Linked DNA regions of Homo sapiens. The main gene of each other region encodes a partner of the protein of the gene in region 2 in a complex. Each region holds a gene or a part of one and is shown on either strand. Other genes may lie near its edges. A codon is read from its position in the direction of its gene.

What was found.
Region 1: the proteins of RIOX1 (region 2) and RPL8 are in contact, whole or in part, in a crystal structure (PDB 4CCN), measured with the Homo sapiens proteins. Residues at the interface, in NP_078920.2 of Homo sapiens: Gly259 (codon at 2,867), Gln260 (codon at 2,870), Arg272 (codon at 2,906), Thr274 (codon at 2,912), Arg297 (codon at 2,981), Met322 (codon at 3,056), Ala323 (codon at 3,059), Gly324 (codon at 3,062), Ser325 (codon at 3,065), Asn326 (codon at 3,068), Tyr328 (codon at 3,074), Phe337 (codon at 3,101), His340 (codon at 3,110), Asp342 (codon at 3,116), Ile344 (codon at 3,122), Ser374 (codon at 3,212), Asn376 (codon at 3,218), Thr419 (codon at 3,347), Ser421 (codon at 3,353), Thr422 (codon at 3,356), Gln424 (codon at 3,362), Tyr577; in NP_000964.1 of Homo sapiens: Gly213, Gly214, Asn215, His216, Gln217, His218, Ile219, Lys221, Pro222.

Annotation. Positions count from the first base shown.
Region 1 is NC_000008.11:144,790,352-144,794,093, reverse strand, and holds the start of RPL8 (large ribosomal subunit protein uL2), read left to right. Parts: upstream 1-1,703; 5' UTR 1,704-1,964; coding exon 1,965-2,102; exon of another isoform or gene 2,103-2,163; intron 2,164-2,179; coding exon 2,180-2,321; intron 2,322-2,598; coding exon 2,599-2,817; intron 2,818-3,623; coding exon 3,624-3,739; intron 3,740-3,742. UniProt on the Homo sapiens protein: Component of the large ribosomal subunit. The ribosome is a large ribonucleoprotein complex responsible for the synthesis of proteins in the cell.
Region 2 is NC_000014.9:73,488,926-73,492,667, forward strand, and holds the start of RIOX1 (ribosomal oxygenase 1), read left to right. Parts: upstream 1-2,007; 5' UTR 2,008-2,092; coding exon 2,093-3,742. UniProt on the Homo sapiens protein: Oxygenase that can act as both a histone lysine demethylase and a ribosomal histidine hydroxylase. Specifically demethylates 'Lys-4' (H3K4me) and 'Lys-36' (H3K36me) of histone H3, thereby playing a central role in histone code.

The DNA of each region.
Region 1 (3,742 bases), on a different chromosome or scaffold from region 2:
TGGAAAACCCCATGTCCAGTGCTTGCGGCCTCGTCTGGAGTGGCTGTCAAGTGACCCAGAACTGCATAGCCCCTGCTGTGTACCAGGCTGTGTGGTCTCCCGTGAAGGTCAAGACTGAGCCCAGTCACACAGTCCTCAGGACTGTCAGGTGGATGCTGGCAGGGCCATGTCTCTTCCAGCCTTAAAGCGGCCTGGTCAGTCTCCTGGCTGCACGTAGGGTCTTGGTAGCCGCATCTCATCCCAGAGACCCGTGAGACCATCTTGGGGACCCCACAGCCTGTGTGTCCAAGCACTCTTCTCACCTCTATCCCGCACCCAACTCTCCTTCTGCTCCTCCAGAGAAGCAGATTTGTTCAGGAGTGACGGACAGGCTGGGCCTGTGGGCCAATTTTGGGCTGACCCCAGAACCCCTCACCCTGCCCCCAGGGTCCAGTCCTGCCCCTCAGCCCCTGGCCCTAGCTGTGGGCTGTGCTGCTTCCTGAGTCCCCACCGGGCAGCTCCTCCTCCATCCCCCTGCCGACCCTAGGGGAGGGCCTCCTGCAGCAGCCCCTCCTCTCCCCTGTGAGCAACAGCGGGCACAGGACACCCTTCCACCCTCTCCTGTCTCCTTCTCACGATGTCAACCCTGCCTCAGCCCCTGCAGGGTCTAGGAAACACCCCACCTCCCAGTACCGACAGCAAGCCTCTCCCGCCCACTGGGACCCCCGCCTTCACCTCCTTGCTGCCTCCCCACCCACGGCCTCGCGTGTGCTCGACAGTGCTCACTCAGCCAGGGACTCTCTCCTGGAAAACCTCTTCCCCACCATCCCCCACCCGCGGCCTCGGGGTCCCACCCGTTAGGGGCCCGATTCCGCGAAGCCCCTCTCCACAGCACGTACCGCAGGACACCCCCAGTCGGGCTGACTCTTTCCAGCTCAGGCCCCCACAGCCCCTCCCAGCCTCCATTTCTTGCTCCTTCCCCACCTCTCCCGCACAGGGTTCTGGTCAGGGTACGGTCCAGTCTCCCATTATTCGTCCACTCCGCAGCATGTGACCCAGCCCATCCCCGCTCCTTCTTCCTCGACCCGGGACCCTCCAGCTTGGCCCTCCCCACTTCCTGGGCCGGCCGGCCCTCACCCTCGGCAAGGATCCCGGGGCTCCTCTCCTCGACGCCCGACCTCTCCAAGGGCCTACAGTGGATAAGGTCCCCGCGTCCAGAAGCGCCCGTTCATCAGGGAGACGGACATTTGCCACCTGCAAACCATGACGTTCCACGAGTGGGTCCACGCGTCTCCCCTGCCCATCTCCTGCTCTGCACCAGCGAGAACCCCCTCGGCCTACACGGAAGCCCCTCACCAGGCAAGCCGGGAGCCCCAGACCCCGTGGCCCGGAGTGGGTCGCTCTGTGACACCCTGGACAGGTCACTCAACCACTTGGCGCCTCCTCGGCCACTCAGAAAACACCTGCCCTCCCGGAGACCCCGGTGAAAGCCGAGCACTCCTGCACCCTCCTTCCGAGCCCACGCACACCAGGACACCTTCAGCCGCGTCTCCTGGTGCGCCTGCGCGGGGGCCCTGGAGGAGGAGAAGTAGGCGGGGCCGGCGGCCGCTGGTGACTACAAGCCCCGGCGTGCACCGCGCTAGGCTGGCCGTGGCGCGCCCGGAAGGTGTCGCGGCCCTGGGCCCCGCCCCGGAAGATAAGGCCGCTCGCTGACGCCGTGTTTCCTCTTTCGGCCGCGCTGGTGAACAGGTAGGTCATCCTTGCGGCCTTGCGGCATGGGCAGTATCCGCCGCCATCCTCTTCCGTGAGGCGCGCTGAGACCCGGACCGGCCCTCCTGAGAGGATGCCGGTGCGGGCGCCCGCGGAGAGGGTAGGGAGTGGTGGGCGCGGCGGCCTCGGGGGCGGGGTCCCGGAAAGCCGGGCTGGCGGGGGTACCCGGGCCGCCCGGCCGCGCTAATCGTGAGTCGCCCCCAGGACCCGTCGCCATGGGCCGTGTGATCCGTGGACAGAGGAAGGGCGCCGGGTCTGTGTTCCGCGCGCACGTGAAGCACCGTAAAGGCGCTGCGCGCCTGCGCGCCGTGGATTTCGCTGAGCGGCACGGCTACATCAAGGGCATCGTCAAGGTGCGGAACGCTGGCCGGGGCGGGAGGGGAAGGGACGCCCGGCCGGAACGCCGCACTCACGCCGCCTCTGCCCACAGGACATCATCCACGACCCGGGCCGCGGCGCGCCCCTCGCCAAGGTGGTCTTCCGGGATCCGTATCGGTTTAAGAAGCGGACGGAGCTGTTCATTGCCGCCGAGGGCATTCACACGGGCCAGTTTGTGTATTGCGGCAAGAAGGGTTAGCATCGCGGCGGGGAAGGAAGGTCGGGGTGGGGAGGGGTCTGGGTGTTGCCTGAGGAGTTAACGTCCTAAGCCGATATGGGAACCTCGCAGGCAGAAGCTTCAGGTGGGGACATCCGCGTGGCCAGACCAGTGGCCACCGGTGGGTGCCGAGAGAGTTGTACCGGGAGGCTGGATGTTGAATGCTGTGCTCGCAACTTCGCGGGTTGCCTAGAGCGAGGGGGTTCGCATTGTTTCTTACTGTGCTGACGGCCTGATGCTGCTTCCCCTTGCAGCCCAGCTCAACATTGGCAATGTGCTCCCTGTGGGCACCATGCCTGAGGGTACAATCGTGTGCTGCCTGGAGGAGAAGCCTGGAGACCGTGGCAAGCTGGCCCGGGCATCAGGGAACTATGCCACCGTTATCTCCCACAACCCTGAGACCAAGAAGACCCGTGTGAAGCTGCCCTCCGGCTCCAAGAAGGTTATCTCCTCAGCCAACAGAGCTGTGGTTGGTGAGTATCAGGCAGCAGTTGAATGCTGAGGGCTGTGGGTGAACATGCTGTGAGTGCCGGTGGACAGCCAGTGGCTAGACTTGGTCCCTGGAATTCGATTACCTGTTGTTCTAAAACTTGGGTTCTGTAAGTTTGAGCTCATCCTGTAGTCTCAGTTGTCATCACTGTACAACAGGCACAACAGTACCTGCTTTACTGCTGTTGAGGCGTTAAATGAGATTGGGACGAAGTCACCAGGGTCTTGGATTCTACCGTGGGCTTCCTGATTGCTGCACTTGCATGCAGTTGGTTAACAGCCTTTTTAGAGAAGGCAGGGAGAGATTGTGGCTTTCTCAAAGACGCCTACTGAGTGAGTGAAAAAGGATTTGAGTCTAGGTTAACTCACTGTGCTGTTTGGGAACATCTTGGAATCCTTGTGATGAACTCAGCCTCGCACAGGGGAGGCTCTGAGGTTGTGTTCCTGGAATAAGTAAAGCTGAGATGGGGCAGGCTGAATCAAGTGTCTTACGTCAGGTTGAGTGGCCGGCCTGACGTCTCACACATGGTGAGGGGGGTGCTTCCCTGCGCTTGGAGCTCAGCCAGCATTCTAGGTGATGGAGGTGAGGGCCTTGGCTTGCCTGCCCATTGTGGATTGAAGAAACTGGATGTCAGCTCACAGGGTGCAAGGGGCTCCCTAGGGTGGAGGCGAGTGGGCTTTTTGCTGGGTAGTTGGATGCAGTATTGGGAAGGTGCATGACAGGAGATTGAGGGGAGGTGGGGGTGCTCTGACCGACTGGGGGTTCCCTGAGGTATCTGATCCCCTACAGGTGTGGTGGCTGGAGGTGGCCGAATTGACAAACCCATCTTGAAGGCTGGCCGGGCGTACCACAAATATAAGGCAAAGAGGAACTGCTGGCCACGAGTACGGGGTGTGGCCATGAATGTA
Region 2 (3,742 bases):
GCAGGAGAATCGCTTGAACCTGGGAGGTGGAGGTTGCAGTGAGCCAAGATTGGGCCATTGCAACACAGAGGTTGGGGTAACACAGCAAGACCCTGTCTCAAAAAAATAAAATAAAAATAAAAAATAAAGGTAAAGAGACTAGTTGGGAGGCTATTTGTAATAAACCAGGATTTGTCTGCCTCAACACTACACTACTGACATTTTGCATCAGACAATTATTTGTTGTGGGAGGGTTGTCCTTAGTATTGTAGAATGTTTAGTAGTGTCTCTAGTGTCTGTTTACTAGATGTTAGACAACCCCTAGCCCCCTATATGACATTGCCAAATGTCCCTATGGAGACAATATCACCCCCAGTTGATAACTGTGTGTGTAACAGACCATGTGAGAAATAAAAAAGGGTGGATGTTAGACATGGGTAAGGACAAAATCTAAAAGCCTTGGCAAGTGTTTGGATAGGCTTGCAACTGAGAAAGAGGGAGTGTTGAAAGCTCAAACAGAGAAAGGTCCTAGAGGCCATGTACTGTAGTCTAATATGCTTATCATTGCTTGAAACATTGTAAACCCTCTTGGAAGGCAGTTTGGTAAAACCTATTAATAATCACAAAAAGTATCTTACTTTTTGACCCAGCACTTTTATTTCTGGGAGTTTATCTTAAATGATTCAAATGAAGACAAGGAATCTTTATGTACAAAGCAATTAGTTGCATGACAGACAGTGACCACGTTCTCAAAAATTACACCCGCATGCCACCACATTGCCTGTTAAATTAGAAGCCGATTTAAGATCCTGAGTTTAAGAGCCAAAGAAGTTGTAGCTAAAGAAACAAAATCCCAGAGGGGCAGGAAGGGCAGATATCAAGAATGCAAGTAGAGAAATTCTTAACTTATTTTTCAGAGAGAGGACAATGAATTTGAGAATTTGTATTGGAGAAAAGAGGGAGAGAAGTTAGGTGGAGGAACTCCTAGATAAGGCTTCAATCAGTGAATTCATCTGCAGAGCAGAAGTTTCTGCGGAACTCAAACTGCCTGGGGGCATTCCTTGAAAAGAAGAATTCTGCACTTTTTGGTGGGAACCTGCCGGTGGAACATCCTGTTTAGAAATGAGGACATCCAAGGAACACTGCAATGTGCAGAGACTAGAAGGAAAAAACAGTCAAGTAGCCATTTCTCCTGGGGAGTCTCTAGTAACTTGATTTTGTGCTTCTTCTTGTTTTTTGAGACAAGAGTCTCACTCTGTCGCCCAGGCTGGAGTGCAATGGTACGATCTCGGCTCACTGCAACCTCCACCTCCCGAGTTCAAGCAATTCTCCTGTCTCAGCCTCCCGAGTAGCTGGGACTACAGGTGCAAGTCACCACACCTGGCTAATTTTTGTAATTTTTAAATTATTATTTATTTTTATTTTTTTGAGGCGGAGTCTCGCTCTGTCGCCCAGGCTGGAGTGCAGTGGCGCCATCTCGGCTCACTGCAAGCTCTGCCTCCCGGGTTCACGCCATCCTCCTGCCTCAGCCTCCCGAGTAGCCGGGACTACAGGCGCCCAGCACCACGTCCGGCTAGTTTTTTGTATTTTTCTTTTTTAGTAGAGACGGGGTTTCACCGTGTTAGCCAGGATGGTCTCGATCTCCTGACCTCGTGATCCGCCCGCCTCGGCCTCCCAAAGTGCTGGGATTACAGGCGGAGCCACCGCGCCCGGCCAATTTTTGTAGTTTTAGTACAGACGGGGTTTCACCATACTGGTCAGGCTGGTCTCGAACTCCTGACCTCAGGTGATCCACACACCTCGGCCTCCGAAAGTGCTAGGATTACAGTCGTGAACCACCGCGCTTGGCCGCAACTTGATTTTTAAATTGCTCTCTGAGTGTAGATTCCTTGTTTGTTTGGCAAGGGTTCTTGCCGCTGCCGCTACAGCTTGAAGCCAAACATTTAATGAAAGAGAGCGGGAGGGGCCGAATAGAAGAATGATGGGCGTGGCCAACCCCGAGGTGGCTGGAGGCCGCGCCCCCTTCCCAGAGTGCACCGCAGCCGCTGCATTCAGGAACCGCTTTAGCTTCGCCCCCGGCCGGCCGGGCGGGGAAGACTGGTGTGGTCTGGCCATGGATGGGCTCCAGGCCAGTGCAGGGCCGTTGAGGCGCGGGCGGCCGAAGCGCCGGCGCAAGCCCCAGCCACACAGCGGGTCGGTCCTGGCCCTGCCCTTGAGGTCCAGGAAGATACGAAAGCAGCTGCGAAGTGTTGTATCCCGCATGGCAGCGCTGAGGACGCAGACGCTGCCTAGCGAGAACTCGGAGGAATCGAGGGTGGAGTCGACGGCCGACGACCTGGGGGACGCGCTACCCGGTGGGGCGGCGGTGGCGGCCGTCCCGGACGCAGCCCGGCGAGAGCCATACGGCCACCTGGGGCCCGCAGAGCTGCTGGAGGCCTCGCCCGCCGCGCGCTCCCTGCAGACCCCGTCGGCGCGCCTGGTGCCCGCTTCCGCGCCGCCCGCGCGCCTGGTGGAGGTGCCCGCCGCGCCGGTCCGGGTGGTGGAGACCTCGGCCCTGCTGTGCACCGCGCAACACTTAGCGGCCGTCCAGTCGTCCGGGGCCCCTGCGACGGCGTCGGGGCCGCAGGTGGATAACACGGGTGGGGAGCCGGCCTGGGACTCCCCGCTGCGGCGCGTCTTGGCCGAGCTGAACCGCATCCCCAGCAGCCGGCGGCGAGCGGCCCGCCTCTTTGAGTGGCTCATCGCGCCCATGCCGCCAGATCACTTTTACCGGCGCCTATGGGAGCGCGAGGCGGTGCTGGTGCGGCGGCAGGACCACACCTACTACCAGGGACTTTTCTCTACCGCTGACCTGGATTCGATGCTGCGCAACGAGGAGGTGCAGTTCGGCCAGCATTTGGACGCCGCTCGCTACATCAACGGACGACGCGAGACCCTGAACCCACCCGGCCGCGCGCTGCCCGCCGCCGCGTGGTCCCTGTACCAGGCCGGCTGCTCCCTGCGTCTCCTCTGTCCGCAGGCTTTCTCTACTACTGTGTGGCAGTTTTTGGCTGTGCTTCAAGAGCAGTTTGGAAGCATGGCAGGCTCCAACGTTTACCTCACGCCCCCTAACTCGCAGGGCTTTGCCCCCCACTACGACGACATCGAGGCCTTCGTGCTGCAGCTGGAAGGTAGGAAACTCTGGCGTGTATACCGACCCCGAGTCCCAACCGAGGAACTGGCTCTGACATCCAGCCCCAACTTCAGTCAGGACGACCTCGGTGAGCCGGTGCTGCAGACCGTGCTGGAACCTGGAGATTTGCTGTATTTTCCTCGGGGCTTCATTCACCAAGCTGAATGCCAGGATGGAGTCCACTCTCTGCACCTCACCTTGTCCACGTACCAGCGCAATACCTGGGGTGACTTCTTAGAGGCCATACTGCCTCTGGCAGTGCAGGCTGCAATGGAAGAAAATGTGGAGTTTCGGAGGGGTCTGCCCCGAGACTTCATGGATTACATGGGGGCCCAGCATTCAGATTCTAAGGATCCGCGAAGAACCGCTTTCATGGAGAAGGTGCGGGTCTTGGTTGCCCGCCTGGGACACTTTGCTCCTGTTGATGCTGTGGCCGACCAGCGAGCCAAAGACTTCATTCACGATTCTCTGCCCCCTGTTTTGACTGATAGGGAGAGGGCACTAAGTGTTTACGGGCTTCCAATTCGCTGGGAGGCTGGAGAACCTGTAAACGTGGGGGCCCAGTTGACAACAGAAACAGAAGTCCATATG